Linked DNA regions of Homo sapiens. The protein of the gene in region 4 interacts with the protein of the main gene of each other region in a pairwise test. Each region holds a gene or a part of one and is shown on either strand. Other genes may lie near its edges.

Region 1 (4,103 bases), on a different chromosome or scaffold from region 4:
CGTGGTGGCACATGCCTGTAATCCCAGCTACTTGGGAGGCTGAGGTAGGAGAATTGCTTGAACCTGGGAGAGCCAGGATTGCACCAGTGCACTCCAGCCTAGGCAACAGAGCGAGACTCCATCTCAAAAACAAACAAAAAAAAAGTGTATTCATAGATAGTATCTGTTGATTGAGAATATAGAACAACAGTAACCCCAGAGTGAAGGAGAAAGCAGCCGGCTTTGGGGCTATAAGCAAGATGCTGGCCACATGCTGCCCTTCTTCCACAAGGGCTCATTCTGTGTCTGTCAAAGGTGGCTGACTGCATCTGCCTGATGGCCCTAGACAAGCCCCAGGCTGTGCCCGTGGATGTCCATATGTGGCACATTGCCCAACGTGACTACAGCTGGCACCCTACCACGTCCCAGGCGAAGGGACCGAGCCCCCAGACCAACAAGGAACTGGGTGAGGAAAGTGGGCTGCAGGGGCTGGCAGTGGGCTGGGATGGTAGAAACTTCTCTCTCTCTTAGTCACCTCTCCCTCAGACCCTACTTCTGTTGATGGGTCACAGAAGGGGTCAGATAACTTAGTCTCATCACTTCTGATTTAGGAAACTTTTTCCGGAGCCTGTGGGGACCTTATGCTGGCTGGGCCCAAGCGGTGAGTGTACCTAGGTGTCCTCCCTAGGTTTCCTCTCCTCCAGCCCAGACCCAGTGGACTCTTCCACCACCGCCCCAGGTGGCCCTAAAGGACTCTCCAGCCACCCCTGTCCCAACCCCAGTGGATTCTCATTGCCTTCGGCCCTGTTCCCCAAGGACTCTTCCACCTCCCAACACTGTCACTAGTCTCACCAGCCCTGACCCCAGTGTACCCTCCTCCCCACACAGACTCCACCCTCCTACAGGTGCTGTTCAGTGCCGACCTGCGCCAATCCCGCCATGCTCAGGAGCCACCAGCAAAGCGCAGAAAGGGTTCCAAAGGGCCGGAAGGCTAGATGGGGCACCCTGGACAAAGAAATTCCCCAAGCACCTTCCCCTCCATTCCCCACTTCTCTCTCCCCATCCCCACCCAGTCTCATGTTGGGGAGGGGCCTCCCTGTGACTACCTCAAAGGCCAGGCACCCCCAAATCAAGCAGTCAGTTTGCACAACAAGATGGGGTGGGGGATATTGAGGGAGACAGCGCTAAGGATGGTTTTATCTTCCCTTTATTACAAGAAGGAACAATAAAATAGAAACATTTGTATGGAAAATGCAGTGAGGAGTGGTAGGGAAGCAGGTGAGGAGGGGACAGGGCAGAGAAACTCCCGGTTCAGGGAGGGAAGGGGAGCAGGCTGCCCCCAAGCCCTCCCACGCAGAGGATCATGACCCGAGGTCCAGGGCCCTAGAGCTGGTGGGGCAGTGTGGGGGACAGTTCTGTGCCCGGCTCCACGCAGCAGTCTCGACAGCAACAGCCAGCTGCCGGCCCTGCATGGGAAGACAGAACAGAGGTGGCCGCAGGGGCAGGCCCTCCACTCCAGCCCGGGTGCACCTTTGTGGACCACCCATGCCCTTCTGCAGAGCCCGCTCCTCACCCCCAGCCACTGGTGTCAGCAGCTCCCCATGGCTCGCCGTCTGCCCCTGCCCCTCCTGGCTGGTGCCCAGCTGCAGTTTCCTCATGTGCCGCACCACAGCCGTGGCATTGAAGGCTTGCTGGCATTGAAGGCATTGAAGGGAGAGGGGAGAAAGGACTTTTGAGAGAGTCAAGTCATGGGGCAGGGGCGCAGTGGGATTCTTGCAATTGTTCTGTTATTTTCATTCAGGAGTTATTTTATTAATTCCCCTAAAGCCCCCCAAAAACCTCTACAAGGCTTTATTATATATTTACACACACACACGCACATATGTTAGATGTATGTGTATCTATATATATAAATAGAAACATAACTATAATTCATATTAATATGTAATAGCAAACACTATAGCACTGTATGTCAGGCACTGTTCTAAGCACTTTACGTAGTAATTCATTTAATCTTCATGAAAGTCTTTGAGGTAGGTACTATTATCATTTTCAAAGGAGGAAACTGAGGCACAGAAAGCTGAAGTAACTTGCTCAGGTGTGTCTCTATTCAATATCTCCACCTAGGTGTCCCACACACCCCTCAAATTCACCATGTCTAAAACTAAAACCATCCCCCCAAAACATGTTTCTGTCCCTGTGATAACCATCTCAGTCATGGTACCACCACCATCCATTCTGTTCCCAGCCACAGTCTTGGGCCAGCCCTTGACATCTCTTTCCCCCAACATCCATTGCATCGTCATGTCTTGTCAGTTTCACCTCCTAAATGACTCCTGGATCAACCACTGTTCTCTGCCCCCTGTTGCTGCTACTGTGGTTCCAAACCCTTACCATCTCCTGCCTGTATCTCTGCCACAGCCTCCTAATGCGTCACCCAGTCTTTACTCCATGCCATTCTCTGCATCCTGAGAGCTCTTTCTTTTTTTTTTGAGGTGGAGTCTCACTTTGTTGCCCAGGCTGGAGTGCAGTGGCGCGATCTCAGCTCACTGCAACCCCCATCTCCGAGGTTCAAGTAATTCTCCTGCCTCAGCTTCCCAAGTAGCTGGGATTACAGGCACGCACCACCATGTGTGGCTAATTCTTTTATTTTTAGTAGAGACAGGGTTTTGCCATGTTGGCCAGGATGGTCTTGAACTCCTGACCTCAGGTGATCCAACCACCTCGGCCTCCCAAAGTGCTGGGATTACAGGCGTGAGCCACCATGCCTGGCCCTGAGAGCCCTTTCTATGCAGCAAATACTTGCCTAAGATTCTTCTGGGGCTCCTCAGTGCCCTCAGGATCAAGTTGGTGCTCCTCTGTGGCATATGAGGCCCTAAGAGGCCTGGCCCCTTACCTGCTTCTCTAAATTGGGCTCCTGCCTCTCAGTCCCCTCAGCCCCTCCAGTCTGGCCAGGCTTAGCACTTGCACTTCCCGGAATGGCTATAGACATTATTCCGCTATGCCTCACTAATTCCTACTTAACTGACAGCTCTGTCAGGTCATCACCACTTTTATGACCTTTCTCGGACCCCATAGGCTGGATCAGATGCCTCCTGAAGAATTACAGACTTCTTCCTCTAGACTTGGAGGTGAGGGACCCTCTCTGGAATAGAGAAGGTGTTGGGAGTGTTTGTTGAATGAAAGAGTGAATGAATGAAGTCCTTCAGTAAGGATCCCTAAGCAGTTACTGTGTGCCCAGTGTGATGCCAGGTGCTGTGCAAGCTGAGCCTGGGTAGGGATGGGGAGGAGTCCTGGGGAGGCTGGGACCAGAACTAGGGATATGGACTCACCTTCCACTTGCTCTTGGCAAAGTTCTTCTTGATCTGCTCACTCACCGACTGGTGGATATTCTTATCTAGAGCTGTATCTCCTGCAATCCTAGGATGGGGTTATGTGGTGGGTTGCCTATGAGGGCAGAAGCAGACCTGAGGGCCCCAAATCCCGCCCCAGCTCACAGGTTGTGTGAATTCTCACCATGGGTGCTGCAAGGCCTGCTCACAGGTGAATCTTTTCTCTGGGTCCTTCTCCATCAAGTGCCGGATGAAATCTTTGGCTAAACCCCCAAGACAAAAGCAAAGATAATGACAGCATGGTACTGCCTGTGTACTCCCCAAGAGCATACCCACTCCCTCAGGTCTGGCCTGGCATCAAGACAAAGAGGCCAAATCAGTCCATGCCCCACCCCACCCAACCTATGCTCTTCTTCAGGCCCTCCCACCCCGTGCCTTCCAGCTCTTTCCTTTCTCTCTTAAGAAAAACATATGGCCGGGCACAGTGGCTCATGTCTGTAATCCCAGCACTTTGGGAGGCCAATGCAGGTGGATCACGAGGTCAGGAGTTCAAGACCAGCCTGGCCAAGATGGTGAAACCTTGTTTCTACTAAAAATACAAAAAAAATTAGCCGGGCATGGTGGTGGGCGCCTGTAATCCCAGCTACTTGGGAGGCTGAGGCAGAGAATTGCTCGAACCCGGGAGACAGAGGTTGCAGTGAGCCGAGATTGTGCCACTGCACTCCAGCCTGGGCAACAGAGCGAGACTGCGTCTCAAAAAAGAAAGAAAAAAAAAAAAAAGTTGTTCTTGAC
Region 2 (8,255 bases), on a different chromosome or scaffold from region 4:
GGGGGTACATGCCAGTTTACAGGGTGTAAGAAGTCTGGGATCCAGCCCTGGCCCCATCTCATCCTGGCTGTATGAGCTTGGGCGGGTCACTTAACCTCTCTTAGCTGAATCATGAAAGTCACCATTTACCCAGGACTTTGTGATTATTTTTATGTAATCCTCCCAACAAACGTGGAGGGAGATATGAATGTCCTCATTTTGTAGAGGAAGGAGAAAATCATACCTCCTAGGATTCTTGAGAGGAAGGAGGCCAAGTGTGTCAGGGAATACACTACGAGGGCAGGTTCTCATTAAGTGGCAGTTCATTCACTTTAAAGCACTGCAGCTTGAGACTTGCTGGAGCCCATCTATCACACTCTCACCTAATCCTCAAGACAACCCATTTTATAGAAGAAGAAACAGGCTCAGAGAGGAGTGACTTGTCCTAGTGCAAAATTCAAATGCAGGTAAATGCAGGTGAGCCTGATATGTGGGACAGGTGGCACCCACATCCTCAGTCTCACCAGTAGGCTTCAGTAAGGACGTAGCTGCCTCTCCTTGTGCCTCCCCCACTAGCCTGGGAGTGCTCCACAGCCAGCCGGGGTCGAGTACCCAGGAGGCAGCTGGGTGCACAGTGACAGGAGGCGGAGGCCTCAAATGGAGAACTGTGTGGCAGGAGGCACGGCATAGCTAGGGCCTGGGGGTCCACAGAGGAGTACACAGCAGGGATGGAGCTCTCACCACTGCAGGAGAAGCCATCCCGATGCAGCTCATAGCCCTGGTGGCAGCGACACAGGAAGGTCCCATAGGAGTTGAAGCAGCGCTGCTCGCATGGGGCCCCCATGTCACACTCGTTCACATCTGGGGGTGCCAGGAAAAACAGGAGGGATGAAAGCGGAGGAGGAGCCCAGAGCCTCCACTCTACCTGGGCTGGTCAAGAAGGGAGCGCCCCCACCTCACACCTCCCTGCCCAGGACCCAGGAGCCTGGCCCAGCCCAGCCTCACCAACACAGGAGCGGTTGTTAGGCCCCAGCTGGAAGCCCGGCTCGCACTGGCAGCGGAAGGAGCCAGGCAGGTTCACGCAGCGGTGCTGGCAGTAGCGGTAGCGGCACTCGTCTATGTCTAGGGATAGAGGCAGGAGAAGGAGGGCGGAGGGCAGAGGGCAGAGGGCAGGTGGGCTCGAGCCGGCTGGGACTCAAGGCTTCACCACCCATAATCCTGTGTCCGAGGAGCTGAATTAGGCAGGGTCAGCCAGGACACCTCCCAAACACTCCCCGCTACAGTCCTCTGTGTCTGATGACGGAGGGTGAGGTGGCAGGGGCCGGGGGTGAAGCCTGGCTTGAATGGGGGTCAGGTGCTAGGGCAAGGGCCAGACCAGGGACACAAAGCCGGGACTACAGAAGCTGCTTCCTGGACTCACCCACACACTCGGGCCCGATCTTGCGGTAACCATCAGGGCAGGTGCACTGATAGGAGCCAGGCAAGTTATGGCAGTCCTGGCTGGGGCGACAGTCGTGCAGGGCCTGGGCACACTCGTCCACATCTGCGAGAGACACCACTCAGCCCCTGCCTGGGATCCCGCACACCACCCAACATGACAGATAGTTCCAACACTTGTATTCGGTTCTCTCAACAGCACGCGTAAGAGTTCACCAGCCTGGAGCCATCAGGAAAGGCACCCCTAACCTCTAAAACCACATGTTGGGGGTTGCACAGGAAATAAGGTCCTGTCCAAACATCCCCAGCAACACTGATTCCTGGACTGTCCTTCCTCCAAGGCCTGTGGCTCCCAGGGGACAGACACTGGAAGGCAGACTTCCTGCAGTGTCTCTGCAGCAACCGAGGGGAGGGGCCCGGAGCTGGCTGGAGCAGTGGCACACAAGCTGGGGCCACCTGCGGCAGGTCCTAAACAACATGAGTGTCTGGATGAGGGTGTGGACATCACCAGTGGCCCTTTTGAGCTGGGGAGGAACATGAGGTCTGAGTTTAAGACGCCTGGTGAGAGGACTGGAAGCCAGGCACCAGAGCAGTCCCCACTCACCCACACAGCTGTCCTGATCGTCGGGCTCATAGCCTGGTGGGCAGGGGTTGGGGTGTTGAGCGGGAGGCACTGGTGGCGGGGGTCCCTCGCCGTGTAGGTCGTTGATGACGGCAGCGGAGCGGGGCAGGCACAAGTAGCCCCCGTAGTGGTTGATGCACTTCATTTCCCCCTTGCAGGCCTCAGGGATGGTCAGACACTCGTTGACATCTGCAGAGAGGGGCCTGCTGGGCACAGCCAGTCTCCTGGGCTGGCCCTGGAGGGAGCGGAGGCAGGAACCCAGCTCGGCCTTCTCTGAGATGTGTGGCCCCAGCAAAGCCTTCCCACTCTGCTCAACAAGCTAAGTCTGCCTGCTCAGGACCCCTCCCCAGGGTTGGCCAAGGCTGGAGATGGGGCAGCTGTTCCCACTGTTGCCCTCATTCTCGGCCTGCAAGTGGGTCTCTATCCCTCCCCACGGCCCTAGCCCTAGCTCAGCCCAAGATGGGGGGCCTCCTTACCCACCCCTGGGGACGCTACCCTCCCAGGTTGTGATGAGACAAAGAGCTGGGACAGGAGAGTGGTTCAGAGAAGGCGTACAGGATCCAGCTCCTCTGAGGGGTAGGGACAAGGTTTCCTGGGTTTCTGGGAGAGGATGAGGCCACCCCTAGCTCAACTGGCCTCCAGAGAGCCAGAGCTGGCCTCTGTGTAGCAGAGCTGGGCATAGAACGGGCTGCTGGGCTCCCACGGCAGTTCTTGGAGGTGGGGCTGTCCCTTGGAAAGCAGCTATCAATCCCTTTCCGGGTTCCTGGGGGTGTTTGGTCCCCCAGGCACACACACCCCGGCAGTGCTGGCTGTCTGGGTCCCACTCATAGCCATCTGTGCATTCCTGGAAGGGAACCAGAAGTGGCCAGTGGTCACCCTAAGATCTCCTCCAACTGGCCAGGCCAAGACTAGGGCCTGAGCCTGGCCACCCTCCGGCCTGCTCCAAACAATGGCCCCCAGCTCTCCACCAGCCAGGGGAGGAAGACTTCCCCGGCAGCAGTCACCCTGGGTCCCGGTCTCTTCCTCCCTACCCTTCCTGTCCCAGGCCAGCGGCCCTCACTGTCCCCACCGTGTAGCTGTCGGGCTCTTCAGAATCCTGAGGAGAAGCTGATCCCAAGAGCAACAGTAGCAGCGCCCAGAGCAGTAGAGACCCGGGTAGGCAGGAGGCGCAGGGGAGCATCCTGGGGCTGCGAGATGGTGGACACGGGTCAGGGGCCTCTGCCCGCGGCACCTCAACTCCCTGTACCGGGAGCCCGAGCCCAGCCCCCGCCACTGCCCGCTCAGGACCGTGCTTGGGCCTCGGGGCCTCCCAGGGCTGGGGGCCGACTCCTCACAGGCCCAGGTCCCAGGCCCGGGTCCCAGGCCCACCCGCCCCGGCCACCCCGCCCCCGCCCCGCGCCCCTGCGGCGAAGGCCGAGGAGCGCGGGCCTCTGTGGGCGCTACGCTGCCGCGGACTCGGCCGAGACTCCGGCCCACGCCCTCCCCCACGGACGGTCACAGCCACTCACTTGGGCCCGCGACACCCCCGCGGCCCGCGGCTCTGGCGGCTCGGCTGGCTCGGGCAATGCCTGCGGGCAGACGGACGGGCGGACGGCACAGCTCCCTGGACGCGCGGCCCCAGGAAGCGCCCCCCGCCCGCCCGCCTGCCGCGGCGCGGCCCACCCCGGCGCCTCCGCCCGCCCTTCGGCGGATTCCTGAGCCAGCGCCAGGGGGAGGGACCCCGACCCCCCGCTTCTCCGCCCCCGGCCAGCCACAGGCCCCTACCCGGTCCCCCGCGGCGCCGCCAGGAGCCGCCTCCCGGCGCCGGACCAGGGTCCCCCAGTGCTCGATCCTGGGGCCCCGACCTTGATGCCAGGCCCCCAGACTCACCCGGGGGCCCCCAGACGCTCACCAAAAATGTCATCCTGCTCACCTAGGTCCTACCTAATCTGCGCCCCCAGAATTTCATCCTGTGCACCCACACCGTAATCCTGGAGCCCCCAGATTCTCATTGTGCGCCTCCCGAGATCGTCCTGGGTACCTAGAGCCCACCTAACCCAGTCCTCCAGACCCTCAATCTGCTCCCTGCAAAATTTTATTCTCTGCCCCAGACCGTCATTGTAAAAGATCCTAAAACTTCATCCAGGGTCCCCAGACCCTCGCCCAGGAACGAGAGGCTCCCAGGAGCAGAACTGTCCTTCTCGCTCCCTCCTGCCCTCCACCCCCAGGACCGTCTTCAGCCGGGTGGTCCTTTCACTACACACGGCCTCCCCCACACCCTCCATCCACAAAGCTACAAGTTTGGGGGCGAGGGCGGCAGTTCCCTTTTGGCACAAAATGAATGGAAGCCCCTGAGAAGGAGGGCAGGGCTGATGTCGGACGTGCGGGATGCCAGAGTCGGGTGCCAAGGCGCCTCCTCGACCTCCTCGCACCAGCGTCCCCCGCCCGGTTTCCGCCTCCGCCCGAAGTGGGGGCGTGTCCTTGGGGCGGAGTATGGGCGGGGCTGGCTCCCAGGAAGGGCGTGGCCTCTGTTTGCCCACGTCTTTGGGCGGGGCCAGGCGGGAAAGCACTGCGTGTCCGGGGATCCCCCGCCTGGGGCCCGCCCTTCCTTTCCCCTTGCCATCCCTGCTTATCCCCGCAGTCGCCCTCCACGTGACCCCGGGGAGGGAGTCTGCCGAGGAGGGGACGTGCTGGTGGGTCCCGCGGCGAGCGCCTGGGGCTCAGGTGAACTGCGCAGTGCCCGCTCCTCGCCACTCTGCCACCACCATCCCTCCCAGCTGCTGGGGCAGAAGGTTAAATAATAGCTCTTTAGGGGCCGGACGCGGTGGCTCAAGCCTGTAATCCCAGCACTTTGAGAGGCCGAGGCAGGTGGATCACCTGAGGTCAGGAGTTCGAGACCAGTCTGGACAACATGGTGAAACCCCGTCTCTACTAAAAATATAAAAATTAGCCAGGCGTGGTGGCGCGTGCCTGTAGTCGCAGCTACTCAGGAGCCTGAGGCAGGAGAATCACCTGAACTCGGGAGGTGGAGGTTGCAGAGAGCCCAGATCACACTGCTGCACTCCATGGGTGACAGAGGGAGACTCCATCTTAAAATAATAATAATAATAATAGGCCCGACGCGGTGGCTCACGCCTGTAACCCCAACACTTTGGGAGGCCAAGGTGGGCAGATCACAAGGTCAGGAGTTCAAGACCAGCCTGGCCAACATGGTGAAACCCTGTCTTTACAAAAACACAAAGAAATTAGCTGGTGTAGTGGCACGTGCCTCTAATCCCAGCTACTCGGGAGTCTGAGGCAGAATAATCTCTTAAACCCGGGAGGCAGTTGTTGCAATGAGCCGAGATTGTGCCATTGCACTCCAGCCTGGGCGACAGAGCGAGACTCCATCTCAAAAATAGTAATAATAATAATAGCTCTTTAAAACGAGAAAGACAGTAACAAGTGTTGGCAAAGATACGGAGAAACTGGAGCCCTCATGCACTGTTGGTGGACAATGGTCTGGCAGTTCCTCAAAATGTTATCACATGACCTGACAATTTCACTCCTAGGTATACATACCTAGGATAATTGAAAAGATATGTACACACACACAAATCTGTACGCAGCGTTTATAGCTGCACTATATATAAGAGCCAAATGCAGAAACAACACAAAAGCCGTCAACTGATGAATAACAAGATGCAGTACATCCACACAGTCGAACATTATTCAGCCATAAAAACTAATGAAGTACTGATGCATGCCACAATATAGGTGAATTCTTTTTTTTTTTTTTTTTTTTAATTGAGACGGAGTCTTGCTCTGTCGCCCAGGCTGGAGTGCAGTGGCGCCATCTCGGCTCACTGCCAGCTCCGCTTCCTGGGTTCACGCCATTCTCCTGCCTCAGCCTCCTGAGTAGCTGGGACTACAGGCACCCGCCACCAGGCCCGGCTAATTTTTTGTATTTTTAGTAGAGATGGGGTTTCACCGTGTTAGCCAGGATGGTCTCAATCTCCTGACCTTGTGATCCGCCTACCTTGGCCTCCCAAAGTGCTGGGATTACAGGCGTGAGCCACCGCGCCCGGCCAATATAGGTGAATTCTTGAAACTACTATGTGAAGTGAAAGAAGCCAGACACAAAAAGCCACATATTCCATTTATTTTTTATTTTTTTTAGATGGAGTTTCGCTCTTGTTGCCCAGGCTGGAGTGCAATGGCATGATCTCAGCTCACCACAATCTCTGCCTCCTGGGTTCAAGCAATTCTCCTACCTCAGGCTCCGGAATGGCTGGGATTACAGGTGCCTGCCACCACACCTGGCTAATTTTGTATTTTTAGCCGAGATGGGGTTTCACCATATTGGTCAGGCTGGTCTCGAACTCCCGACCTCAGGTGATCCACCCACCCTGGCCTCCCAAAGTGCTTGGATTACAGGCGTGAGCCACCGTGCCTGGCCCACGTATTCCATTTATATGAAATAACCAGAATAGGCAAACCCAGAAAAACAGAAAGTAGATTAATGGTTGCCAGAGGAAGGTGGGGAATGGGGAGTGTCTGCTAATGGGGTCTGGGTTTTCTTTGGGATAATGAAAATATTCTAACACTAGATAGTAGTGATGGTCACACAACTATGCAAACATACAAAAACCCACTGAATTGTACACTTCAAAAAAGTGAATTTTCTTTGGGAGGCCGAGGCGGGTGGATCATGAGGTTAGGAGATCAAGACCATCCTGGCTAAGACAGTGAAACCCCATCTCTACTAAACAAATTAGCCTGGCGTGGTGGCAGGCGCCTGTAGTCCCAGCTAATCGGGAGGCTGAGGCTGGAGAACGGCGTGAACCTGGGAGGTGGAGCTTGCAGTGAGCCGAGATCGCGCCACTGCACTCCAGCCTGGACGACAAAGTGAGACTCTGTCTCAAAAAAAAAAATGTGAGTTTTATAGTATGTAATAATACCACAATAGGCCAGGCACGGTGGCTCACGCCCGTAATCCCAGCACTTTAGGAGGCCAAGGTGGGTGGATCACCTAAGGTCAGGAATTCCAGACCAACTTGGCCAACATGACAAAACCCCATCTCTACTAAAAACACAAAAATTAGCGGGCTATGGGGGCGAACGCCTGTAGTCCCAGCTACTCAGGAGGCTGAGGCAGGAGAATCACTTGAACCGGAGAGGTGGAGTTTGCAGTAAGCCAAGATCGTGCCACTGCACTCCAGCCTGGGCAACAGAGCAAGACTCTGTCTCAAAAAAAGGAAATATAAAAAAAGGCAGGAAAGGGGTGCTGCTATCACCCCATTTCACAGATAGGGAGGCTGAGAGACTTGTCCCAGGTGAAGGATGGGACTTGCACTCATGTCCCACGGACTTCAAGACTCGCTGGGCTCCTTGCCCCATATTAGAGCATTAAGGACCCGCCCTGCAAACACCCACTCTGTGCCAGCCACAGTGGTGGGTGCTCCACTAAGTATCTTCCACTCAAGCCTCAGCCTGAGAATTGTCATTGCCAATTAGAGATGAAGACATGAGGCCCAGGGGGGATGACTTAGTGCACAGCTGGTGCACAACCTAGACCTGAACCTCCATCTTTGCACTATCCAGCCCGAGTGAGCCTTCCACTTGGAGTTGCCTCCTCAGAATGCCTCCCTCGTCCTCTGCACCCCCAGTGACTTTCCCTGCCTTCGCCTGCTCTGCACTGGGTCCCTTTCAAGGTCCCAGACACCACTGGATCAGTGTCTCCCTCCTACCAAGCAGGGAGCTCCTCTCAGGCAGTGAGGCCCCTGTGCCCATGGCCCAGCCCTTACTGGGTACCAGCTGGGATCTGCAGAGTAGGCAGTTGAATGAACAAATGAGTGAGTGGGTGGAGGAAGTTCATTGATTCACTCAACAAATGTTTTCTCGGCCGGGTGCAGTGGCTCACGCCTGTAATCCCAGCACTTTGGGAGGCCAAGGCAGGTGGATTGCTTGAGGTCAGGAGTTTGAGACCAGCCTGACCAACATGGTGAAACCCTGTCTCTACTAAAAATACAAAAAGATTACCCCAGCATGGTGGTGCACACCTGTAGCCCTAGTTACTTGGGAGGCTGAGGCAGGAGAATTGCTGGAACCCGGGAGGCAGAGGTTGCGGTGAGCCGAGATCGTGACACTGCACTCCAGGCTGGGCGACAGAGTGAGACTCTGTCTCAAAAAAACAAAGCAAAACAAAACAAACAATGTTTACTGAGTGGCCACTGTGAAGCAGATGCTGTGGTGCTAG
Region 3 (8,699 bases), on a different chromosome or scaffold from region 4:
GTCATATCATTTAGTATCCACTCCGTAGTAAAATTTCCCCAACTGTCAGGCCAGCGTGGTGGCTCACATCTGTAATCCCAGCACTTTGGGAGGCTGAGGCGGGTGGATCTCTTGAGGTCAGGAGTTCAAAACCAGCCTGGCCAACGTGGTGAGACCCCGTCTCTACTAAAAATACAAAAATTAGCCAGGTGTGGTGGCGGACACCTGTAATCCCAGATACTCGGGAGGCTGAGGCACAAGAATTGCTTGAACCTGGGAGGTGGAGGTTGCAGTGAGCCAAGATTGCACCACTGTACTCCAGCCTGGGTGACAGAGCAAGACTCTATCCAAAAAAGAAAAAAAAAAATTCAACCCACTCTGCCCTTTTTCTTTAAGTTTCTCATAACATTAACCAGGCCAGGTGACTTTAAAGGCCCACATTCTGGATTTTTCTAGCTGTTTTGTCACAGATTCAGATTAAACATGTTGGGCAGGAATGCCACATGGGTGAAGGTGTGTGTTCCTTTTTTTTTTTTGAGACAGGGTCTCCCTCTGTAGCCCAGGCTGGAGCGCAATGGCACAATCTTGGCTCACTGCAACCTCCGCCTTCTGGGCTCAAGTGATTCTCCTGCCCAAGTAGCTGGGACTACAGGCATAAGCCACCACACTCAGCGAATTTTTGCATTTTTTGTAGAGATGTGGTTTTGCCATGTTGGCTGGTCTCAAACTCCTGAGCTCAAGTGATCCTCCCACCTTGGCCTCCCGAAGTGCTGAGATTACAGGCGTGAGCCACTGTGCCCAGCCAGGGCAGGAGCTTCCTGTCTGCTTTGTCCCAAGCAAACACACAGCCAAGGGTGTGTGTTCCATACTGTGCATAATTCCAGCCTGTCTCTGTTTGGGTGATGGTACATTGTATCCCTAAGTTTAGTTGGTTACTGTCAGATAGACAGATATATATCTATCTGACAAATATATATATATATATATATATATATATATATATATTTGTTGTTGTTGTTGTTAGAGACAAGGTCTTGCTCTGTCGTCCCGGCTGGAGTGCAGTGTCACGATCATGGCTCACTGTAGCTTCAACTTCCCTGGCTCAAGCAATTCTCCAGCCTCAGCCTCCTGAGTAGTTGGGACTACAGGGGCATGCCACTGCACCCGGCTGATTTTTGTATTTTTAGTGGACTCAGGGTCTCCCTGTGTTGCCCAGGATAGTTTCAAACTCCTGGGCTTGAGTGATACTCCTGTCTCAGCCTCCCAAAGTGCCAGGATTACAGGCATGAGCCACCGCCACTGGCCAGGGCAGGGGATTCCTGTCTGCTTTGTCCCTTGCTTGGGTGCCCAGCACCTGGCCACACAATAGGTAATCAATAAGGATTTATCGAATGAATGAAGCAAAGGATATAGATGAGCACCTGCATATGGAAAGTCCATTCTTGGCTGTGACACCACCCAGGCTGGACACACAGTAGGCACCCTGGGAAGGTCTTTCTGGGGGTCGAATTTTGGGGGAAGGGAAAGGTGTCTGCTTTATCCAGCCCCTCTTGTCTTTACTTCATAGGAGACCAGCCACTAACTGGGGCGTACACAGTGACCCTGGATGGACGAGGGCCCTCAAGGGTCATCTCCAAACATGACCTGGGCCATTTCATGCTGCGCTGCCTCACCACCGATGAGTACGACGGACACAGCACCTACCCCTCCCACCAGTACCAGTAGCACTCTGTCCCCATCTGGGAGGGTGGCATTCTGGGACATGAGGAGCAAAGGAAGGGGGCAATAAATGTTGAGCCAAGAGCTTCAAATTACTCTAGAGAAACCGACTGTGTGACTCTTCCTCTCTCTGCCTCTGTCTGAGTATTTTGGTGTGTCTGCCTGCCTCTGTGTAAGATTTGCTTGTTATGCATTCATTCATTTGTTCAGTAACAGTTTATTTTTATTTTTTTATTTTTTTGAGACCGAGTCTTGCTCTGTCGCCCAGGCTGGAGTGCAGTGGCGCAATCTGGCTCACTGCAAGCTCCACCTCCCAGGTTCACACCATTCTCCTGCCTCAGCCTCCCCAGTAGCTGGGACTACAGGCGCCCACTACCACACCCAGCTAATTTTTTTGTATTTTTAGTAGAGACAGGGTTTCACCGTGTTAGCCAGGATGGTCTTGATCTCCTGACCTCATGATCCGCCTGCCTCGCCTCCCAAAGTGCTGGGATTACAGGCGTGAGCCACTGCGCCCCGCCCAGTAACAGTTTATTGAGTCTGGCCAGGCATGGTGGCTCATGCTTGGAATCCCAGCACATTGGGAGGCCGAGGCGGGTAGATCACTTGAGGTCAGGAGTTCAAGACCAGCCTGGCGAACATGGTGAAACCCTGTCTCTACTAAAAATACAAAAATTACCCAGGCGTGGTGATGCACACTTGTAATCCCAGCTACTTAGGAGGCTGAGGCAGGAGAATCGCTTGAACCTGGGAGGTGGAGGTTGCAGTGATCCGAGATTGTGCCACTGCACTCCAGCCTGGGTGACAGAGCGAGACTCCATCTCAATAATAATAATAATAATAACTTAGCTGGGCATGGTGGTGTGCACCTATAGTCCCAGATACTCAGGAAGCTGAGGTGGGAGGATGGCTTGAAGCCAGGAGTCCAGGTTGGGCAACATAGTGAGACCCCATCTCTACAAAATAATTTTTAAAAACTTAGCTGGGCATGGTGGTGTGTACCTGTAGTCCCAGATACTCAGGAGGCTGAGGCGGGAGAATGGCTTGAGGCCAGGAGGTCAAGGCCTGGCCACTGCACTCCAGCCTGTAGGACAGATCCAGACCCTGTCTCTGAAAATAAAAAAAAGTTTGTGCTTTATTTTGAGGATTTATGCAAGGAGTGGAGCACCAGAGAAGTAAGGCAGGGGGGACAGTTGGGTGTTTTATGAAGCTTCCTTTGGCTACTCTGTGAAGGTGGAAAGGAAGGGTCCAGGAATGGAGGCTGATAGCCCAGAGGGAGTTGGAGGAGGAACTGTAAGGAGGGGAGGAGAGAGTGGGTGTGAGGAATGCCTGGGAGCCTGCGTGGACAGTTGGTGAGGGGTGGAGGGGAGGCATCAGAAAGAAGCATACGGCTGTAACCCGGGGACAGAGTTACACTAGTGCTTCAGGAGGGAGGCTGAGGCTGCAGTGAGCCAAGGTGCGCCACTGCACTCCAGCATCCACGACGGAGTGGGACCCCGTCTCAAAAACAAAAACCCAAATGCAGTAGGGCTTTCCTGAGTTGTGGACCCTATAGGAGGCGCAGGTTTTGGAGGAGGAAGGGGAAGAATTGCTCCTTCCTAATTATGTCCTTTTTTGGAACCTACTGTCCCTTTCTTTTTTTCCCAGGGACACCTTCCCTAGGCCTGGGTGAGCTAAGACACTTCTCTCTCCCTACCTCCAACCCACACCACCCACCTACCTATTCCCCTCCCATTTATCCTGCAAACATCAGGATGACTTGGTTGACAAACTCCAACCGGCAAGAACTGGTCTGAGGAGGCTTAAACCTCCCTTCCCAGAGGTGGCCTGGAGAAAACTGCCTCCTCCCCTTAGGGAAACTCGTTGTAGGGGCGGAGCATTACGGGTGTGGGCTTTCAGGACACTAGCAGTGTCTTCTTTCTGCCTTATTTTTCTGTCACATTCCTGAGCATTTAGCAAACTTTCACTGGGACCTGCTACGTGTCCAGCCCTGTGCTAGGTGATCCTGCAGACCAAGAGGTGGTTGACAGAGATATCCTTGGTACCTGCCCTCGGCGGGGCGTTCCTCAGTCCATATAGTAACTGACAGTCCAGGACTGGGATGGCGGCACAGGAGGCCATGGAATCCTAGAATGGATCCTAACCCAACCTGGACTGCCAGGGAGGGCTTCGGAGAGGAGGAAACCTTTGAAATGTGTTCTGAGAAGCAGCCTGGGAATTGAGGGTATATTTTGAGGATGAGGAAACAAGTTTAAATATCCAGAGGCGAGAAGATTGCTTGAGGCCAGGAGTTCAAAACCAACCTGGGCAACACAAGAAAACCCCCCTCCCCCCTCCCCCATCTCTCTGTCACCCAGGCTGGAGTGCAGTGGCACGATCTCGCCTTCACTGCAACCTCAACCTCCCAGGTTCAAGCGATTCTCCTGCCTCAGCCTCCCAAGTGGCTGAGATTACAAGCGTGCGCCACCACGCCCAGCTAATTTTTGTATTTTTAGTAGAGACGGGGTTTCACCATTGTTGGCCAGGCTGGTCTCAAACTCCTGACCTCAAGTGATCTGCCCGCCTCCGCCTCCCAAAGTGCTGGGATTACAGGCGTGCGCCACTGCGCCCGGCAAAAAATAATATTAATAATAAAGATCCAGAGGCCTTTTATTGTCATGTTTGCGAACTTATTATGTACCTGGCATTGTTGTAGACACTGGGGTAAAGCAGGGAAGAAAACAAACAGAGAAAATCCTTTCGTTTTCCTGATGGGGTGAATGGGAGCTTGAAGCCATTTTAGAAAAACTGGAAGTGACTCAATGGGGCAGGATCGGAGAGAACCAGGAGAACGCATCAAGCAAGGTCGTGAGGGGCTTTGTGGCAAAAGGAAGGAGTTTGAAGTTTGTATTCGGGGTGGGTAGGAAGCCATGAACAGTAGCAGAGGAGTCATCTTGATGGAGCGGGGAAGGAAAGAGGGTGTCAGAAGACCCAGGTGGGACCACCAGAGGACGTGCTGAGAAAACCTGAGGATTAAGAAGGGGCCGCGCGGTAACGTATAGGGGGCGGGAGGGGCAGCAAGGGGGCGAGGCTACGATCGCCTAGGCAACGCGGGCCGCGCCACTCTATTGGCTGGTCTTCCGCTACGTCATCCCCCGCGCCCCAGCGTCCTCCCTCGGAACCCCGGGGGCGCGGCCTCCTCCGGTTGCTCGGCCCCGCCCGCCTGCACAGCGACTTGGGGAGGGGCATGCCAGCCCCTCTGGCTCCACGGTGGAGTCCAGGCCTACCATAAAGGAACCGCAGGGAGCAATGGTGACGATCTTGGAGCGAGGACTGTAGCTGAGTGGAAGGAAGCGGTTCTGTTGGACCGGCCGCCCTCCACCCCGGAGTCGCTGCCCCGCCCCCTGCCAGTTGCACTTCTTTAAATGGCCCGGGGCGCTAGGGAGGGGTGGGCGGATCCGGCGTCTCGGGGCACGGGCGGATGGCTCCGCCCAGCCAATCGACGCCCCGCGGCGGGCGGGACTCCAGCCAATCGCGGCTCGCGGCTCGGCTCCGGGGCGGGGCTGGTGGGCCAGAGGCCAGACGGAGAGGCCCCGCCGAGGTGAGCGAGGCTCCAACCGGTCACTGGTGGGTCCTGGCACTGGCGGGTCGCAACGCTGTGGGCGTTCCAGGAGGTGGTCGTGGCGAACCTGGCAGCTGCGGTGAGGAGTGGTCGCCTGGCTTGGGAATTTACCTTAGGCTGGGGGAGAGAGAAGCGCGCCCCGGGGACTTGCGGAGGCGGGGTCTGGGTGGGACCGGGGGAGGGGGCCTCAGATTCAGGGTGATGATAGGGAGGGTCTGGGGACCTGAGACTGAGTTCAAGACCCAGGAGGGGAGGCGAGGTTGTTGGGGCAGTATTTTCAAGTGGAGGGAGTTTGAAGCTGGGACGTTGGGCTTTTGGAGAAGCGAGAGAACAGAGGGGAGGAACTTTTGAGACAGGGAACCTGGAGATTCGATTCCACTTGGGTCTTCCGGACGGGTTGAATTCGGGGCTTTATCGTGTTCTGGAAAAGGTGTGAGAGGTACGGAGCTGAGATTCTGAGTATTTGGAGAAGCGAGAGAACTAGGGTCAAGGATTCTTGGGACTCCAAGACGCACTGGCGGGGGAAGGAGGTTGCCGGGAAGAGTTCAATGTTCGGGTCTTGGAGCCGGACAGCGAGTTTGGAGGTGAAGTCCAGGGGCGTTTGAAAGTCAGGAGACTAGGAGAAGTGGGAGGAAGTATCAGAATTAGGATACGTAGTCTCCCGAACTAGATCGGAGCATTGTCGTCTTTGAGCGATGTGTTCGGATCTGGGTCTCTGGATCCAAGGGCAGTTTGGAAGGAGAATCGCGGACTTTCAAGGAACAGAGGGACCGGGAGAAAGCAAATTTAGAGCCGGAGTCTGGGGTGGGGGAGGGGTGTTCCGGGCCTGGAGCTCAGACTCGCGGCCCCGGAGGCAATGGAGGGCGGGGCTCGGCAGGCGCCGGCAGCTGGACGTCCAGGTTCCCTTCCCCCACCCGCCTGTGCCCCTGTGCGCATGCCCTGAGGGAGAGCGGGGTGAGGGGGGTGGCTCGTCCCCTGGACGGGCGGAGCCCTCTGGGGATTGTAGTGCGTGCTCGACGTCAATTCGTGTACCTGGCGGCTGTTGGCCCCCGTTTCCCAGAAGCCCCTGGGCCAAATTGGGGCGTTCCTGGATGCTCTGTAAGGACCCATGGGGGGGCGGGGCCTTACAGTGTCGCGGTCTGATTGAGTGGGACCTCCGAGGGGGCGGGGCTTGGTCTGAGCTGAGTTCTAGCAAGTTTTCCTATGGGGCGCGCTTTGGGGGAATCTGAAAGCGTGGGCAGAGGGAATGAGACAGGCCCCTTTCCTACTCTTGGGAGCGCTCCCAGTCGGTTAAGGAAGAGGACATAGAAATATCCCGACTGTTGAAGAAGAATCTCAACATAGGTTCCCCAACAGGGCTCCAGGAGATTTCGAATATAGTAGGCACTCAGTAAATCTGTTGAGCGAATAACTGGCAATTAACTCTTGATCGAGGCCGGGTGTGGTGGTAATCCCAGCTACTCAGGAAGCTGAGGCGGGAGGATCGCTTGAGCCCAGGACTTCGAGACTGCAGTGAGCTGTGATAGCGCTGCTGCACTCAGCCCTGGGCGACAGAGCGAGACCCTGTCTCTAACAAAAAACAAACACAACTCTTGTTCATTAAGCACTTCCGGTGTGGTGGGCCCTATAGATACGTGGCATCTCCTTGACAGAGGTGGTGAGAAGTATTTTTTTACAGTCCCTATTTTACAGATGAGGAAACTGAGGCCCTGAGAATTGACTCATTCAGATCACTTCCCATGATCACGCAGCTGAGCAGTTTCCAATACAGAATTCAGATTTGGGGTTCCCTACTTCCAATCCAGGTCTCTGTGCTCCACACTTGTCTTTCGTGCTCCATGTTTGAAGAAATTAATATTGTGGAAGAACAGTTTTAAGGCTTAGAGGAACTTGAGTTAGGATCCGTACTTGGCAGATGAGGAAATTGATTCTCATGGATGTAAATTCACTGTTTGAGGCCACAACAGGCAAGTAAGTGAGATTTAAATCTAGCTGTACGTAACGCCAGATCTTATTTTCTTAATCGTATATGTACTCACCTTCTTAAACTTGTAGGATTCAGACAGCCTTCATTTTATACATCAGTAAACTGAGATTCCGATGATTAAAAATCACTAACAACTCAATAGGCCTGAGAAAGTGGGATATGAGCCAGCACTACGGTGTCTGGTGTCTGACCTTCCCCTATGCGCCTCTTCTCTCTACAGGGCATCATGGTGGGAGGCTTGAAGAGGAAACACTCTGATTTGGAAGAGGAGGAGGAGAGGTGGGAGTGGAGTCCAGCAGGCCTTCAGAGCTACCAGCAAGCCCTGCTCCGCATCTCCCTAGACAAAGTCCAGCGCAGCCTGGGCCCCCGAGCACCCAGCCTCCGCAGGCATGTCCTCATCCATAACACCCTCCAACAGCTGCAGGCTGCACTTCGCCTGGCTCCCGCCCCTGCCCTGCCCCCCGAGCCCCTCTTCCTGGGCGAGGAGGATTTCTCCCTGTCAGCCACCATTGGCTCTATCCTCAGGGAGCTGGACACCTCCATGGATGGGACTGAGCCCCCTCAGAATCCAGTGACTCCCCTTGGCCTCCAGAATGAAGTGCCACCCCAGCCTGATCCAGTCTTCTTAGAAGCTCTGAGCTCCCGGTACTTGGGGGACTCTGGCCTGGATGACTTCTTTCTGGACATTGACACATCTGCGGTAGAAAAGGAGCCTGCACGGGCCCCACCAGAGCCTCCTCACAACCTCTTCTGTGCCCCAGGTTCTTGGGAGTGGAATGAACTGGATCACATCATGGAAATCATTCTGGGGTCCTAAAACTGTGATAGAGGGGATCGATCCTTCCTCATGTCATCTTCGGTGGCCTGGATCCCTGAATGCAACTCTGGGTGTGTGTTTTTGTGGGGGCTCGAAGCAGTGACTATGGCCTCCTTTGTTCCCATTTCAGGGTTCCACAAACTGTCTTGCATGTGTGTGTGTGTCTGGTTACCCCGACCTTCTGTGAAGGTGGGTCTTCCTGAATTAATTTATCTATTCCAAATGCCTTAACGAGACTCTGTTTCTGGGAGTCTGATTTTCCACTTACACATTTCTTCCACCTTTCCTGCTAGTTCCCACTCCCCTGTGACCACTGGGGCCTCAGGGAAGATAAAGAAAGCTGGGCCTGTCGAAGGATGACAGGGATGTGCTGCCAGGTTGCTATAGAAACCCAGGCTCTGCCTCTTGCACCTTGAGGGGGTGGGAGGGGCTGGTGTCCTCCCTCCAGGCTGAACCCCACTTCCTCGGCAGGACCCCAGTCTCAGCAGCCTCCTGATTTCATAACCAGGCCGGACCACGTGCAATAGGGTGGAAACCAAACTGCTCCATGCCGGGTTATTTAAAAGAAAGGCAGAGTTTGTGGTGGCTTTTTTTTT
Region 4 (8,002 bases):
GCATTTAGAGGGTCTACAATGCAAATCTGCATGGCAGATTTCTAAGTATTGGCAGGGTATTATGGGGATTCCCAAAGTGTTTCAACAAAGAATTCTTTTCTCATAGAGAAATTCTCGGTCTCATTTGGCAGAATGCATTTTGAGAAACACTCTCCTAGGCAGTCTAGACATTTTTATAGCTCCTCCCCTAGAAATTCTGACTCTTTACCTCCAGTCACCTCTTGGTCCCCTTTCTGCAAGATATGTGGGATAAACAAACACACAAAAATATCTCATGTCTCTGCCTCAGCCTCTTTAATGAGGTCCATTATAATTAAGAGGACTGAGTGATAGCATGCATGGAAACCACTAAAATGTGGTACCTGTAGTTTTGCTTTTATGATAGGAGCAAAGCTCTTTGCTTCTCTAAATTGTTTTGGTGTTAGAAAAATTCTGTTACATGGTTAGAATCCCCAGGCTGTAACATCCAAGCATGAAGCAGAACCTCTCCTCTGAGCCTCAGGTTCCTCAATGCTAGAGGATTTTTAGGCCAACGAAGATTAAAGTTAATTAAAGGAGGAACCTCAGGTTCCTCCTCTATAAAAGAAGCATAAATGCCACCAATTTATCAATCCAAAGTGTGGGTAGGATGAATTTAGACAACAGGTCAGTGAGTGCTCAGCATGGCCGTGGATGGTGCTCTACGTTAGTTCCCTTTTAATCATCTGGAAAGGAAGAGAAATGCTCAAACACAGAAGGAGAAAGAAGCTTTTGTGCATGTGCTCAGCCAACATGTGCGCCTTCCTCCTAGTTTCCTGTTGTCTGCAGTGTCTCAAGGGTGACTGGCCAGATGACGTGGACAGAAGTTGCTACTCATGGACAGAGAAAAATACCCAAAGTGCCATTCCCACAGGCAAGCTCTCTTTCCTCCTCTTCAAGTAGAAAGTAAACTACACGGTCAGGAATCTTTTTGTAATACTCAGCTGCACTCAGTGAGAGAAATAGAGACTTACAGGTTTTAAGTGTTTTTTATGTGATAGAAAACTTATCAGGAAATCAAGGAAGTCACCACTGACATGATTGACTCTGAAGTGACACGCAGGAACATGCCAGATTGCCACTGCAAGGGGGTGTGGTATGTTGAATGCTGGCTGATGCTGTGAACTGGAGGATTTGTTTTCAGTTGGGCATGGAAATTCAAATGAGCCCAGCACAGCCTACACAAAGGATACCCTGAGACAACACAGCCCTGGGATGACAGCAATGCACTCGGCTTTAGAGAGCGAGCAGCCGCAGCATGGCTCCACAAAACTGGCAGAACCAGAAACCATCTGGGTCAGGTACAGGTGACCTGAAGGCAGCAGCCAATGCTGATCAGATTGGATGAGCCAGAATAGTGGGACCCACAGGAAAAGATGCCCATGGCCAGGCCTGCTACCCTCTCCACGCAGCCCCAGGCTCTGGGATGTGCTGAGTGGACAGGACCTGCCCAGTGGCCTAGTGTCATGCATTCTTCATTTCCCCAGCACAGGGCCCCTTCCTGGCAAGTGTGTCCCCCTCCCCCAGAACCATTGCCTCTGGCTGTGACATGCCCCTTCACTTGGCCACTCACCGTAATCACCTTGTTTTCTAGATCTGCTCCTCCTGCCAAGCTGAACCCAAGACCAGCACCTTCCTCCTTGTGTAAGATGGTGACATGGATGCCGTCTAATTGCTGCAGAGGAAATACATACATTCAAAAACATTTTACTGCAAGAGGATGAACAATTTAACATCGGACTGACATCAGACTGATTTGTTATCTCAAACCCCAGCTTGGCCAGCCTCCAAGTTACATCACCTCCTCAAACCTCAGTTTCCTCATCTGTAAAGAATGGACCTTCAGGAGTCATGGGAAGCTTAGAAGAAAAAAAAAATGTATGTAAAGCAGCAAGCATAATTATTTTCCTCTCTCATTCACCCTGTCCACAGCCGGGCAGGGGGAGTGCCATGAAGTCAGCCAGAAATCAGCATATTGGACAGTGTGAGATGAAGTCAGGTTGTAGGACTTCAGGTAAAACAAAACAAAAAAAAAAAACAACAAAAAACAAAACAGGGGTCAGTGCTGTTCTGCAGGAATTGGTTGCTCCTTCTTCCCTTCTACTTCTCCATGGGTCACAGCAGCAGCACTAAGGAAGCCCAGCTAACATCCTGCCCCAATGCACAGTGTGCAAGTGTGACACACACACACACACACACACACACACATTACTACGGTACTTCCTAGCCTAGACGGGGACTCCCATGGAGCCAGGACACAGTCAGAGACTCCTATTCCAGTCTAGAGCAGGGGTCTCAAACTCAGATGCCTATAGGAGTCAGGCAGGTCCCTAAAATGAGCCAAATGGGCAGATGTGTGATAGGAACTGCAGAGCGCCAACGAGTACATCTGCTCAAAGGGTCAGCTCTACGTAGGCATACAGAACTAGCGCTACCAGATCACTTCCCTAAAGTCCAGGTTTCAATTCAGGTTTTATCATGTATAGAATTCAATATTTTTTTCATCACCATGCAGACCAAATAAAGTACACCTACAGGTTCTTGGGGCACCTGTTTGTACCTTGGCACTAAGGAGTAAACTTATGTCAAAGAATTCACTTGCTCAGCGTCACTAGAGCACCTGACTTGCAGCTGTCCCTATGATCCTAAGACTTGGAGCCCCTAAGACCCAAAGGCATGGAAGGATGAATGTACCTCACTGCACCCTCACCTCCAAGCCCCAACACTAGCCCAACTCTCTCAACTTTTACCCAAGTATCAGGTTACTTGCCTTGTAGAAGGCTCTTCTCATGTTAGAAAGCAAATACTCTCCCCAGAGCAGCTCAGGCAGGATGGCTCTTTGTGTTTTACACGCTCTGCCTCTGTTATTTCATTTGCACTGAGTAAGATCCTGGGGGATGATGGTCCCAGGTGACAAGTGAAAGCCACAGCGAAAGAATCTCAGCACAGCAGCACCTTGGGCTCATCAGACTCACCTACACTCTTGATGTGGAAATTGCAGCTATGAGGCCTCCTTGTATGGAAAACGAGAACCTCCTTATCCTCTCATCCTAGCCTGGATCATTCTAGTGCCAAAAGCCTACGGAGGCCTGGGGCAGCACCTAGAGGGTGCAGGACCCATGAGCCTGAGCTCATTTGACTGCTGGCCCCAGCTCAGCCTGGCCACTTCCTCCCCACACCCCTTTGGGTCATGCTCAGAAAACATATGGGAAGTGAGACTTTCAGAATGACTTGACTGAAGCGTGGGGGACTTGTGAGCCCTGGGATCAGCCACCTCTCCATGCACAGTGGAAATAATGAAAGCTCCAGGTGAGAGCTCTTGTAACCCACATTGTTTACAATGGACAGCATCCCACAACAGACACATGCCAGGACAGCAGCACATGGAATGTGGAAACAGCACTGAACTTGAACTTGGAGACAGAAAACCCAGGTTCTGTAACCTTGATTGAGCCTTACCTTTCTCATTTATAAAATGACAAAAGAAGATGCAAGAAGTCAATCTACTGAAAGTGGTTCACAAGCTAAAAGGCTCTCTTCAAATGGAAGGTCTTACTGTGGTCAAGTGCTACAGTGTCCCACCATCACAGGACGCAACCTGGGTCTGATGTGAGCAGGCTACTCAAGCTACTTCCCCTCTGGCCCAACTAAGGTGGCCACACAGCCATAATAAGCCATTGGTTACTGCAGATGCTTACAAAGGAAACCTACCTTTAATGTTGCTTCATCCAGAACCTTCACCTCCTCGATGAGTTTTTTTAATTCTTCTGAGCTCAGCAGGGAGATAACGGACTGACCAGACTGAAGGGAACTGTGGTCCCCATCATCGTCTTCCTTGGCTTCCGTGAGACCCTCTGTATATTCTCTCAGCTCTGAAAGGCTTTCATAAGGAGAAACAACACACAGTATGAACAACAATATTAAAAAGAGGTAACAGTGATTGTATAATTACTATGTCCCAGGTGTGGTGCCAAGCACTTATGTGCATATTATTTGATGCAACAAATCTATGAGTAGATACTAGCATACCTTCACTCTACAGATATTTCCCAGCAGTGTAAGAATAATAAATAAAACTAATAAATGCAGAGCTACTTTGATCAGAGGGAAGACCAAGCCCCAGCCCTACAGCAGGGACCCTATGGCACGTCTGACATCCTCTTGGTTCTGCATAGAAGGTCTCATCCATCTCCTAATTTCAACTGACAAGGAATCTGAGGGTGAGCATGGAAAGAACCTGCTCATAGTCAGAATCAGTGCCTAAGCTGAGACTAGGACCCAGACATCCTAACTCCCTGACGAGGGAGTTGAACCCACGTGCAGAGTACAAGTGGATTCCATTTGGAGAGTAAGAATTCCTGATGGATAATTTCCTGGCCTCATTCTGGTCTTTCTGAGTAACCGCAGGACATTTCAGATGTGCATCAACCTTCCAAATCTCCACAGGCGTATGTCAGCCCTCATGAGCAATTCACCAGGGAGCCAGTCCCACCTCCTACCTCCCAGCCCTCCTGAAGCCAGATGTTGTGAAAACTCCTCCTTAATGTGAAAGGCAGAGGTGTAATACCTACAGACAGACACACACACACTCAGACATCTGCACACACATGGAAAGAAAGAGGCAGAACAATTCTTTAATCAATATATCTGGGAATTTTTTAAATTATATATAGGATTATTTTTAAAAATAAAGATGAGAAAGAAAAAGATGAGAAAGGTAAAGAGAAACACCGGGTGTAGAAACTCACTTGAGCGAGAACCCTGTGTCCAAGGCAGATGTTTCAGCAGAACCATTTGCAGCTGAGTCTTCGTTGGATGATGATGTTGGAGATGCCCCTTCCTTGGGGATGCAGGGAGTCTGGGCACAGGAGATAGAAGATGGAAGGCACAGCAAGGATTTCATGACAGCCGATGACACTTGGCTGCTGATAGAATAGAGTTTGCTGGTCTTTTCGTCAAGTAGCTTCGTCTCACAGGACTGGGACCTGGTCAGGGGGAAGCTCCGTGCTCGCTGGCTAGGCATCTTGAGCACTGGGCCTTGAGATTCCTCAGCCTGTGTTGACAGCAGCCTTAGGAGCGGGTCCGGGCCAGGGGGGAGAGTTTTCTGATTGGGCTGCCGCCCTGGGGGAGGGGACTCAGACACACCTGGGTCTCTGGCCTCGGAGGCTGCAGGGGACCCCGAGGACAGTACTTGCTCAGGCTGCTGGGGCACAAGAGTGGGTGCAGCCCCTCGCCCCAAGAGTCCAGAAAACCGTCCTTCCTCATGCTTCCCAAGAGGTTTTGCTGCCTCCCCAGAGGAGGGCTGGAGGCTCAGTCTCTGGGCTCCTTTGTCAGGCAGTTGAGAGGAGCCAAAGGTTTCAAAGGAGCTGATTCTCTGCCTGATGGAGGAGGAGGAGGAGGAGGCCCGGATGTGTGATCCTAGGTGCTCCCTGGAAGCAGGTGCTGGCTGGGTGGACAAGGCAGGATCAGGGAGCCCTCTTGGGTCTGAAGCACGATTCCTCAAACCTTTCAAGCTTTGGCGAAACCAGGCTGGCTTGGGAGCCACAGGAGGACCTTTCTTCACAGTGCTGCTGTCTGCTGACTTGTAAACTTTGGGAGTGCCATTGGCGGTGTCCAGCTTTGGTGGGGTCCCATCTGGGTGGCCCTGTGTCCCTTCTTCTTCATTCAGGCTGGCATTGGGCTGTAGAGGCATGTGGCCATGGTTCTCACTCATGATGGGGCTAAATAAGTTTTTGATGCAGTCAGAAATCCTAACCCAAGGGTCTTCGGCTGTGGTATCAAAGCTATAGTCCATCCGAGCCTGCCTCTTAAGCAGTGGGTGTTTTATCGGGGATGTTTGGGTCACTACAGTGCAGAAACAAGGCCAAAGCTGTGCATTACATCATACAGTGACTTTTCTTCCTAAATTCTAGTTTCCAAGCTGAACAGCAAGAAGGATTCAAGAGGAGGAGATTAGCAGAAGTGGGGGACACCCAGGTGGGTGAACTCCAGGTGCTATTACCTGACTGAGCTGCCAACAGGCAGGAGTGAAGGACCAGAAGTAGGAGTTAATCTCACAGTATCCTAGTGTTTTAGGCCTGGAAGGGTGCTCAGAGAATATCTGGGCCGACCTCTGGCATATTACATTTCAAGAAGGGTAAGGGGCCATCTGATGGCAGTGCTCAGGCAAGACCCTGTGTCTCCTGACTCTTGAAGTTCATGTCCTTTCTACTGCACTAAGGAGCCTCCAAGATACCATGTTAAATGTGTAAAAGCCAAAGCAGTTCTCCTGCCGTTTAAACTTTTAAGACAAAGGTCATGAGTTGGCAGCTGTTTGTGCTTTGACCTACCCGTGTCATTAAAAACAAGGTGCCTGTGCACAGCTTCTGATGGGGCCACTTCGGCTTCCCACAGCTCTTCACGCTCCCTCTCACCCAGCCAGCATTTCCCATGTATGTACCTGCCTGGCCCTGAAGCCGTGTGTTTGCTGCTCTGCCTATACACAGGTCATTGATCAGCTTGCTCTCGGCAAAGGAGTGTTTTCCCTCCCTCAAAAGCTGATGAAAAGGTTCCAGGTAGAAAGGAATCTGTGAAGTAGGATTCTCCACCTTGGCTACATACTGGAATCTGGAGGGCCCTGAAAAATACTGACGCCCACCCCTAGGTACTGACTGAAGATACCTGGGATGCAGCCTGGGTGTTGGGAATGTGATGAGCAGGGGATTGCAATGTGCAACCTGCTCTGTGCCAGCCAGGACCTCAGGCATGCCCTGGAGCACATAGGAGTCTTTCTCAGAAGCCAGCATTGAACCAGCATCATATCTGCATGGGTAAGGGAGAGGGTGTCCTGGCTCTCTTTCCCAGGGGCAGAGGGAGGCTGGCCTGTGTGCCTTGGGGGATGCTTGCTACTGGAACGCAACCCAGTTGAAGGAACTCTGATCCCTCCTGTCCCTTGTCTCAATGCCAGGTTTCAAAAGAAGTGAATCATGGAGCATTACACCTTGATGATATCAAAGAGAAATTCTGCACAATCTAAGAGACTGGCCTTGGGCAAGTGAGCCCAGGCCTCCAGCCTGTTTCTGCATTTTTGAATGGCTTGGCTGTAAGGTGCTGTTGTGAGAATCAGGAGGCAGAGGTTCCACAGGCAAGCCCTTTGCAGATTGGAGTGACAACCTCCTGTCAGTTAAACACTGAGGCGTTTGCTTTTGCTAGAATGTTCCTCAATTAGGGTGACTAAGGGAGAGGAGCCTCCACCCACAGGGCCTCTGCTCTGGGTGAGATGTGCTAGATCTTTCCAAAATGTCCCTTAGCCCTCCAAAAGTCTTTCATGAGCTTTTCTGTAGTGTTACTCAAACAGTCATATGTTTTATAGTCTATATGTTTATTTCCTGCCACTACTAGTTGCTCCTTGGAGGCAGGACCTGACTACCTGGTCTCATCCCTTTCTCTCTCTCCCCCCAGCATCTAGCACAGGGCCTCACGAAGCCAGCATTCAATGTGTGCTTGCTGAATGCATCATATGCTTGGGGTCTACGTGCTCTTCCACACATTGCTGATGAGTGAATCTGGGCTCAGAAAGGCAAAGTAGGTTGCTCAGAATCATACTAATGACAGACAGATCCAGGATTCCCTGACTTCAAGTCCTATGCTCTCTCTAGCAAGCAAATAAATATTCAAGTCATGTCTTAGCATTGTCAGGTGTACCATGTGGACACACCCTTGCTATCCACCTCATGGAGGAGGTGACCACTGGTAGATGCTATTTATACTTTTCTGGCGTTGCATTCTCTGACTCAGAAATCCTGAATGCAGCAGGACTGTTGCAACTGGAATGTTGGCACCCTAGAGGTAGCTGCCCAGGATGGCTGGGTGGGTGTGTCTTTGGACCTCTTCCAAGGGCTCCATCCTCCCAATTATCCAGAATGGCCTGCATTCCTGCTGCCACCCCCACAGCATCACCCGTCCACCCAGGAGGCTCCCCACCCTGGACAGCACCTCCACGGTG

Evidence for each region.
Region 1: the proteins of IL16 (region 4) and CAMK1 interact in binary tests that used the Homo sapiens proteins (3 or more experiments, as listed by UniProt).
Region 2: the proteins of IL16 (region 4) and EFEMP2 interact in binary tests that used the Homo sapiens proteins (3 or more experiments, as listed by UniProt).
Region 3: the proteins of IL16 (region 4) and SERTAD3 interact in binary tests that used the Homo sapiens proteins (3 or more experiments, as listed by UniProt).

What each region holds. Positions count from the first base shown.
Region 1 is NC_000003.12:9,756,177-9,760,279, forward strand, and holds the end of CAMK1 (calcium/calmodulin-dependent protein kinase type 1), read right to left. Parts: intron 3,575-4,103; coding exon 3,496-3,574; intron 3,400-3,495; coding exon 3,312-3,399; intron 3,111-3,311; coding exon of another isoform or gene 3,011-3,110; intron 1,671-3,010; coding exon 1,553-1,670; coding exon of another isoform or gene 1,446-1,552; coding exon 1,363-1,445; coding exon of another isoform or gene 1,341-1,362; 3' UTR 1,171-1,340; downstream 1-1,170. Other genes in the region: OGG1 (N-glycosylase/DNA lyase), read left to right, coding at 295-445, 591-640. UniProt on the Homo sapiens protein: Calcium/calmodulin-dependent protein kinase that operates in the calcium-triggered CaMKK-CaMK1 signaling cascade and, upon calcium influx, regulates transcription activators activity, cell cycle, hormone production, cell differentiation, actin filament organization and neurite outgrowth.
Region 2 is NC_000011.10:65,869,137-65,877,391, forward strand, and holds the start of EFEMP2 (EGF-containing fibulin-like extracellular matrix protein 2 precursor), read right to left. Parts: upstream 3,665-8,255; 5' UTR 3,547-3,664; intron 3,226-3,546; 5' UTR 3,219-3,225; coding exon 3,108-3,218; intron 2,883-3,107; coding exon 2,834-2,882; intron 2,228-2,833; coding exon 2,021-2,227; intron 1,523-2,020; coding exon 1,400-1,522; intron 1,102-1,399; coding exon 985-1,101; intron 841-984; coding exon 721-840; intron 1-720. UniProt on the Homo sapiens protein: Plays a crucial role in elastic fiber formation in tissue, and in the formation of ultrastructural connections between elastic laminae and smooth muscle cells in the aorta, therefore participates in terminal differentiation and maturation of smooth muscle cell (SMC) and in the mechanical properties and wall integrity maintenance of the aorta.
Region 3 is NC_000019.10:40,440,894-40,449,592, reverse strand, and holds the start of SERTAD3 (SERTA domain-containing protein 3), read left to right. Parts: upstream 1-5,257; 5' UTR 5,258-5,378; intron 5,379-5,515; exon of another isoform or gene 5,516-5,738; intron 5,739-6,977; exon of another isoform or gene 6,978-7,038; coding exon of another isoform or gene 7,039-7,104; exon of another isoform or gene 7,105-7,270; intron 7,271-7,506; coding exon of another isoform or gene 7,507-7,512; coding exon 7,513-8,103; 3' UTR 8,104-8,699. Other genes in the region: BLVRB (flavin reductase (NADPH)), read left to right, coding at 1,547-1,704.
Region 4 is NC_000015.10:81,297,240-81,305,241, reverse strand, and holds part of IL16 (pro-interleukin-16), read right to left. Parts: intron 5,939-8,002; coding exon of another isoform or gene 5,895-5,938; exon of another isoform or gene 5,863-5,894; coding exon 4,767-5,862; intron 3,899-4,766; coding exon 3,730-3,898; intron 1,694-3,729; coding exon 1,592-1,693; intron 1-1,591. UniProt on the Homo sapiens protein: Interleukin-16 stimulates a migratory response in CD4+ lymphocytes, monocytes, and eosinophils. Primes CD4+ T-cells for IL-2 and IL-15 responsiveness. Also induces T-lymphocyte expression of interleukin 2 receptor. Ligand for CD4.